Linked DNA regions of Homo sapiens: all the other regions are linked to region 2. The links come from fine-mapping of genetic effects on gene expression. A gene starts in region 2. Each other region holds a variant in brackets. All regions are shown on one strand. Distances are between the middles of the regions.

Region 1 (2,763 bases), 26 kb after region 2:
AGAGAAGGCCAAATGTCACCTTGGTGTTTCTCAGGGCAAGAGGGGCAGGAAGATATGGAGCAAAGGGCTGCTTCCGAGTCTCTGATGGTCTAACTGGAGGATGGATGAGTGGACGGAGAGGGTGGAAAAGAGTGGGATTCACAGCATAATGCAGACAGTAATATCAAGGGGAGGAAAGTCCCCTTTCTCTTGAGTCCAGAAAGAAATGTATGACATTACATTTATGATGATTAAAACTGTTCATGCATAATACTAACTAGCTGACATTTGTTGATCCTATGGACCAGGAACTGAACTAAGCAGTGTCATGTGTTATCTCTACATCCTCTAACAACTCAATGACACAGAAATTATATCACTCTGATTTTGTTGAGTAGAGGAGTCTGAGGTGATGTAAACCAAACCCATTAATTCTTTTCCATGGGCACATAGCCAAATCACATTTGTCAGTCCTGAGCATCTAGGTGTGGCCAAATGCCTAGTTCTTGTCAAGACTATGTGGTTGTCAAGTATGTGTACAACTGGGTATGACTTCTCCCCTTCTTCTTGTTCCCCTTCTACCAGCTGGATTGAGCCAGAGCAACCATAAAGATTCCTGTTCACAGCAAAAGGTACCTGTGTCTCTGAATAATTGTGTGGCTCAGTGCTCACCTGATGATGGACACTATGACCCAAAGTGAGTCAGAAACAACCAGGCCCCCGGAAAGCCACAATGAGCAGTTTCACACAGAAATTCAGAGGCAGTGGTGCCCTCACATTATCTGAAGACTGCCATGACTCCACATGACCAGCTGGTGGCTGCTTACCTGCACAGGTAGCATGTGAGAGGCCTCTCTTCACTATCCACAGCTCCTGCCCATGCTCTAGCAGGTGGACCAACTCTGGTTTGGGAACCCGATGCCCTGTTGATAGCAAAAGAAATAGAATAGGGGTAATTTAATGAGAAAATGAAAGTCTCTCCATCTTGCCTAGGACTTCATGACAGGGTCCAGACATGAATGCAGCTGCTCCCAAAGTAAGCAAAATGCTGATGTGAGCCCTGAAAATCAAGGGCATTGCTCTGAGTGAGCTGTGTTCCCCATAAAAATCATATGTTGA[T/C]GCCCTAACACCCAACGTGACTGTATATGGAGACAGGATCTTTAGAAGGTAATTAAAATTAAATGAGGCCACAAGGGTGGAGCCTTAATCTGATAAAATTATGGCCTCATAAAAACAGAGAGAGATCTCTCCTCTGTCCCTCCACCTTGTAAGAACACAGCAAGTCAGCCATCTGCAAGCCAGGAAGAGAGGTCTCAATAGGAATCAAATTTGCCGACACCTTGATCTTGGACTTCTCAGCCTCCAGAAGCATAAGAAAATAAACTCTCGTTGTTTAAACCACCCAATCCATGACATTTTATTATGGCAGCCAAGGAGATAAAAGACAGGCACAAATCCCACTGTTGGGCTACAACTGCCATGGAGGGTAGTGCTATCTGTCTACACAACACCCACTGCCCATGACCTCCGTCTATGGAAGCCAACGTTGTTCAGGCACACAACACTTTGACAGCCATGGGACACGGCAAAGGTGTGCTGCTTCCTCCAGAAGGCATTTTCTTTCTTTCTTTCTTTCTTTTTTTGAAACAGAGTCTCACTCTGTTGCCCAGGCTGGAGTGCAGTGCTCGGCTCACTGCAACCTCTGCCTCCCAGGTTCAAGGGATTCTCGTGCCTCAGCCACCCGAGTAGCAGGGATTACAGGCATGCAAAACCATGCCTGGCTAGTTTTTGTATTTTTAATAGAGACTGGGATTCACAATATTGGTCAGGCTGGTCTCGAGTGCCTGGCCTCAAGTGATCCTCCTGCCTCAGTCTCCCAAGGTGCTACTGCACCCGGCCCCAGGAGGCATTTTCTAACAAATCTAAATCATTGCTTCTCAAACACCTCGTGCTTTCAGAACCACTTGGGGATGCGTGATTCCAACCTCAAACCAAATGAAACAAAATTTCTTCGTGTGAGACCTGGGCATCAGTACTTCCAAAATGTGCCCCCCAAAATTCTGGTGCCCAGATGGGGCTGCAAACCACTGGCTGAGGCTGGACATGGTGGCTCATGCTGTAATCCCAGCACTATAGGAGGCCGAGGCAGGAGGATCACTTGAGGCCAGGAGTTCTAAACCAGCCTGGCCAACATGGTGAAACCCCGTCTCTACCAAAAATATAAAAAATTAGCCAGGTATGGTGGTGTGCACCTATGGTCCTAGCTACTCAAGGGGATGAGGTTGGGAGGATTGCTTGAGCCTAGGAAGCAGAGGCTGCAGTGAGCTGAGATCATGGCACTGCACTTCAGCCTGAATGACAGAGCAAGACTCCATCTCAAAAAAAAAGGAAAAGAAAAACCAGTGGTTGAAATAAATTGGTAATGCAAGAGTCTTCATTAGGCAGGTGACCAAAGCTGGATTCTCATTGTGAAAAGAAAGCATTTATTCCAAGGTGGGAGGATGGATTGAACATGGGGGCCTGCTGCCCCAGTCAAGGCTGCAGCACCCAGCATCCCTATGAGGAGCCAGCCTGAGGACAATCAGAAGCCTGAACCAAGAAGAAGGAACAGAGAACCAAGACATCCTTGATGGCGTCACTGGGCTGCGGCACCGAACAAGCCTGGAGCCAACCACACCTCAGGCTTCTCATCAGGCGAGTTAGTGAATTTCCTTCCAGGTGAAGCCAGTTTGATCTGGTTTTCTGTTATATGCAGCCAAATGCTTTCCACTAGATGTGGTGAGT
Region 2 (2,763 bases):
CTGATAGACACTGAGGCACGCTGTACCAGCAGCTCCTAGGAACGCACTCAGTTAATGGTACCCAAAGCCCCTGCGTTTATCACTTTGTGATAATTAAGCCCCTGCACCTGGAACTGTTTATTTTCCTGTAAATGTTTGTGTAACCATTTATCTTTTAACTTTTTGCCTGTTCTGCTTCTGTAAAAATTGCTTCAGCTAAACTCCCCCTCCCCTATTTAGATCAAGGTATAAAAAGAAATCTAGCCCCTTCTTCGGGGCCAAGAATTTTGAGCTCTAGCTGTCTCTCGGTCGCTGGCAATAAAAGGACTCCAGAATTAGTCTCAGAGTGTGGCATTTCTCTATAACTCGCTCGGTTACAACACTATAGCCAAAGATTACATTCATAAAGATATTTTTACAATATAGGTGTCTTATTTAATATGACTCCAATCTAAATGGTAATTTTTCTAACCTTTCTTAAGTAATTATAAAATGTCAAAATTATAAACAATTAAAAACTAAAGAGAAATGAAGACAATGGATAGCAACAAAAGCTAATTGCTAAATATGGGGGAAAAAAGCCAGGCATGGTGGCTCATGCTTGTAATCCCAGCACTTTAAGGCAGGCGAATCACTTGAGGCCGGTTCTAGACCAGCCTGGCCAACATGGTGAAACCCTGTCTCTACTAAAAATACAAAAATTATCCGGGGGTGGTGGCGCATGCCTGTAGTCCCGGCTACTCGGGAGGCTGAGGCAGGAGAATCGCTTGAACCTGGGAGGTGGAGGTTACAGTGAGCAGAGATTGCACCACTGTACTCCAGTCTGGGCGACAGAGTGAGACTCTGTCAAAAAAAAAAAAGGAAAAAAAGAAAAGAAAAAGAAGATATAATGTTTCTGCAATCTCATTTCAGTTCCACTTATGATAATAGATACATTATGTAATTTAAGTCACTAACACTTGAGGGCAAAAAAACAGAATAAACACAAACGTGTGGGATAAGGGGATGCTGACCCCACTGTTAGTGATCACCTTGGTTGGAGACCCAGGTTTTATCATACAGATGAAGCCTGCAGGTAGCAAGTTTCAGAGAAATAGATTGTAAATGTTTCTTATCAGACTTAAGGTCTATGCTGATGTTATTGCTGTAGGGGTAGAATGAGGCATGTCCAACCCCTTCTTCCATAATGGCCTGAACTAGATTTTCAGGTTAACTCTATAATGCTGAGAGGAGGGGGTCCATTCAGATAGTTGGGAGGCCTTTGAATTTTATTTTTGGTTATAGTTTCTACATTAAAAAAAAGAAAAAAATTAAGGGTCGCGTCAATTCTCAATTGTCAACATTTTTAATGTATTGTATGCAATATATGTCAACTTTTGTGTTGAGAAATGAAGATCAAATCGTATTCTTTTATCCTGTGTATGTAATAGGCTTTGCTGACCCTAGTTTGATGGGTTTTTTCCTTTGTCCTCTCTTTCTTGGATTGAGTCCTCACAGCGCGGCGGACTGCGGCGTGGTAGGAACTACACCACCCAGAATACTGTGCGCCGAGCGTGCCGGGGCCTTAGACCAATCATTGCCCAGGAAAGGGGCACCTCCGTAAGTGCGCAATACGCCAGAATCTTCCGGCGTCTTTCCGGTGGTGGTCGTTTTTGCTGCCTGCGAGCGCGTCCGCGGGCTGGGCGTTTCCGGCTCGCTGGGTCCGGGCCAGGTAACTGGAGCCGGAAACCGGTGGAGGTGGTGTCCGCCCGCAGAGGAGCTTGCCTGGTCTCGGTCTGAGCGTCGCCCAGCGATTTGCCACCGCACGCACGCCGGATCCCGGGCTTTACCGCCCGCCTTTCCAGGCCCCGCCCCGCCTAAAGTCCCATGGCCGAGGCAGCGCTAGTGATTACGCCGCAGGTGAGAGCGGAGTCCTCGGATCCTCACCTGGGTCCTGAGGCCCCGGACTGGGGTCACCTGCGTGGGTCTCTGCAGTTCAGGCCTCTTCTCCAGGACAGCGAGGAGTTCTGGGTGGGGTCCTCAGAGCTGACGGGCGGTGAGGTGAAGAAGGGAGAGCGTTGCGTACCGTGGGGGCTGCACGCGCAGAGCCTGGGAGGTGCGCCGGGGTCGCGAGCATTCGGAAACTTGGGGGCGGACCTGTGTCTGCAGGGAGCAGAGAGAATGAGGAGAAGAAGGCACGGCTGCCATGGCAGCCTGAGCAACCGGGGTTTTTAATTCTGAGTCTTTGGGAGCCATGGAGGGTTGTGAACTAAAGGAGAACACGATCTGAGTGAGGGTCTGAAAAAATATTTCAAAGGCAATGAGTGGAGAAAACAGACTGTTACGGAGTGATGGGGGTGGACGCAGGGATACTGGTGAGGAGACTGCTGTAGTAGGCTCCAGGAGGATTATGGTGGATTCTGGACCAGACGGGTTGCTGAAGGGACCTAAGTAATAAGAATCTTGGTAGATCTTAAAGGTAAAGCCAGCAGGATTTTCTGCTCCATCATTTGTGCCTATGAGCAAAAGTGGGAGTGAAGTATGATCCCAAGTTTTTCTTTTACCTGAACATCTGGAAGAGTTGACAAAGAAATCTGGTGAGGGAGCAGGTTTCAGGGAAATAGTAGGAGTTGAATTTTGGACGTGGTGTTTCTAAATTGCCACAGAGTGAAGTTGTTACATGGGCAGTTGGAATCATAAGTAGAAAATTCATGGGAGGGGACTGACTCAGTGATGTGTAAATGGAGACAGGCTGGGGCGTAGACTCAAGCCAAGCCTTAAATTTAGACGGGAAATCTTAAGGTT
Region 3 (2,763 bases), 30 kb after region 2:
TCTGATGCAGACAAAGGGAGACCAGTCAGGAAGAGGTGGGAACAGAAAGGTCTGTCAAGAGAAAGGTGGGCAGTTCCAGTGACCTTTTTGCCTGGCCAAGAATCAGGGTTAGGGTCCTCCTCAGGGATGAGAGGTGAGTCATTACCTAGTGAAACCAGAAGCCCACAGGTCTCCAGCATCACCTCTCGGTACAGGGTCCTCTGGGCCAGGTCCAGCTGTCTCCACTCCTCCCGGGTAAAGGTCACAGCCACATCCTTGAAGGTCACCAACATCTGGAAAGTCAAACAGAAGTAATGCTATTGGCCTTGTGTTGTCGCATAGGATCAGAACCTGTCACTCAGTCTCTAGTCAATGTGCAGAGAGATCCAGGTCTGAATCAACTAGGTCTCCTTTGGGCTGACTTCCGTGCAGGGCTCAAAGGGGAGGCAGATACTGCCTTTTGACAATGCAATTGTGCCTGAGAGAAAAGCCTTCTATGGGGAAGCTGTTGAAGATGACACAAACAATGGCAATCCCACGAGGACTATGGGAAGCAGAGAGTAAGTACTCTGGCATATTAAAAGAATGGAGGAAAATGACTGATACTAATCCAACCACAATAACAGCAACAGCAGCAGCTAAGTGTGGGGGAAAGAAAAATAGATCAGACCGTTACTGTGTCTATGTAGAAAAAGGAAGACATAAGAAACTCCATTTTGATCTGTACTAAGAAAAATTCTTCTGCCTTGAGATGCTGTTAATCTGTAACCCTAGCCCCAACCCTGTGCTCACAGAAACATGTGCTGTATTGACTCAAGGTTTAATGGAGTTAGGGCTGTGCAGGATGTGCCTTGGTAAACATGTGTTTGCAGGCAGTATGCTTGGTAAAAGTCATCGCCATTCTCCCGTCTCGGGTACCCAGGGACACAATGCACTGCGGAAGGCCACAGGGACCTCTGCCCGAGAAAGCCTGGGTATTGTCCAAGGTTTCCCCCCACTGAGACAGCCTGAGATGTGGCCTCGTGGGAAGGGAAAGACCTTACCTTCCCTCAGCCCGACACCCATAAAGGGTCTGTGCTGACGAGGATTCATGAAAGAGGAAGGCCTCTTTGCAGTTGAGATAAGAGGAAGGCATCTGTCTCCTGCTTGTCCCTGGGAATGGAATGTCTTGGTGTAAAACCCGAGCGTACATTCTATTTACTGAGATAGGAGAAAGCCGCCTTATGGCTGGAGGTAAGACATGCTGGCGGCAATACTGCTCTTTACTGCACTGAGATGTTTGGGTAAAGTCAAACATAAATCTGGCCTACGTGCACATCGAGGCACAGCACCTTTCCTTAAACTTATTTATGACACAGAGTCCTTTGCTCACATGTTTTCCTGCTGACCCTCTCCCCACTCATTACCCTATAGTCCTGCCACATCCCCCTCATGGAGATGGTAGAGATAGTGATCAATAAATACTGAG[A/G]GAACTCAGAGACTGGTGCTGGTGTGGGTCCTCCATATGCTGAGTGCCAGTCCCCTGGGCCCACTTTTCTTCCTCTATACTTTGTCTCTGTGTCTTATTTCTTTTCTCAGTCTCTCATCTCCACCTTGCAAGAAATACCCACAGGTGTAGAGGGGCAGGCACCCTTCACTAAGTCCTCTGGTCCTCACTGTGTCCCTGCCAGGCTAAGGCTTCCTTAGCCGTGGTAAAGCAAATAAAGGCCTGACTTAAATCAGGCCTCCTGAATCTGACACTTGCCAGCTATGTGACTATGACGATGTCACATGATCTCTCTAAGGCTCGATTTCCGAATCAACACAATAACTATTCCCATCTCAGCAGGCAGCTCTAAGAACTAAACAGAAAATGTTCACTTAGGCAATCAGTGGAGTGCCTAGCACATGTAAGTGCCTGATGTGTTTGGGAACTTTATTAATCCCCTGACAGGCCCAGAGGTAAATGTCGTTATCACTTCCATTTCACAGTCAGCAAAGGCTCAGGGAGCTTTAGAAATCAGGCACAGCCTCACATTTAAAAAGCAAAAGCAGCATTTGAGCACCGCTAAAACACCTCACCAAGCTGCCAGAGAGCAGGCAGGTGGGAGTGAGGGGTGCTTTTAGCTACAGCCAGCACTGCCAGGATGGGTGTGGAACTGCAGCCCCGCAGAGACCTGAGAACAATGTCTCAGACAAAGGGAAGTGCAAGGGCAAAGGCTGAAAATGGGAAAGAGCTTGGCAAGCTCAGGATTCCCTGGATGAATGCAGTGAGAAAGGGGACAATGGAAGAGGAGAAAGAAGATGCGGTCAAAAGGGCAAACCAAGTACAGCCTTGCAGACCATGCTGGTAGGAGGGGGTGGATTTATTGGAAATGTGATGAGAGTCCCTATAAGAGAGGCCTATTCAATCATCAACCATTTATTAAGTACAATAAATGTACTTAAGCCTGGCTGTTCTGGGTCTTGGGAGAGGGAAGCAACAGGCACTCACATTCCAGGGTTGGAAAAAGATCCTAAACAGGCAACTAAATAAATGAGTAAGGCAATGTCAGATGGCCTTAAAGATTCAGATGACAAGAAAACAGAGCAAGGAGACCAAAGAGACTCTGGTCAGCTTTAAACGGTGCAACAGACGAGACCTCTTTAAGCAGCGGACACCAGAGGGAGTCAGAAATAAAGCAAAGGAGGGAGAGGTGGATGAGAAATTAACAACTACGACAGGAGCTGACAGTAATCTGGGCTATCATGAAAGTAATCAGAGTGACTGCTAGAGAGTAACCCTGGGCCTCATGTGTTATCTCC

The links. PIP is the estimated chance that this variant, and not a neighbour inherited with it, causes the effect.
Region 1: its variant is fine-mapped to the expression of ZNF549 in anterior cingulate cortex (GTEx, PIP 0.97).
Region 3: its variant is fine-mapped to the expression of ZNF549 in cerebellar hemisphere (GTEx, PIP above 0.99). The same link has a PIP of 0.9 or more in cerebellum, skeletal muscle and whole blood.

The regions. Positions count from the first base shown.
Region 1 is chr19:57,551,821-57,554,583 of GRCh38, forward strand. ZNF550 (zinc finger protein 550) reads right to left here. Exons shown (of 4, transcript NM_001397372.1): 3 at 807-902. Among named protein-coding and RNA genes, the nearest start is that of ZNF550, 6.7 kb to the right of the region's middle. The variant T/C (reference allele first, on the strand shown) is at 1,099.
Region 2 is chr19:57,525,729-57,528,491 of GRCh38, forward strand. ZNF549 (zinc finger protein 549) reads left to right here and starts at 1,628. Exons shown (of 4, transcript NM_001199295.2): 1 at 1,628-1,878. The coding sequence starts at 1,846.
Region 3 is chr19:57,556,086-57,558,848 of GRCh38, forward strand. It overlaps ZNF550 (zinc finger protein 550), which reads right to left. Exons shown (of 4, transcript NM_001397372.1): 2 at 146-272. Among named protein-coding and RNA genes, the nearest start is that of ZNF550, 2.4 kb to the right of the region's middle. The variant A/G (reference allele first, on the strand shown) is at 1,448.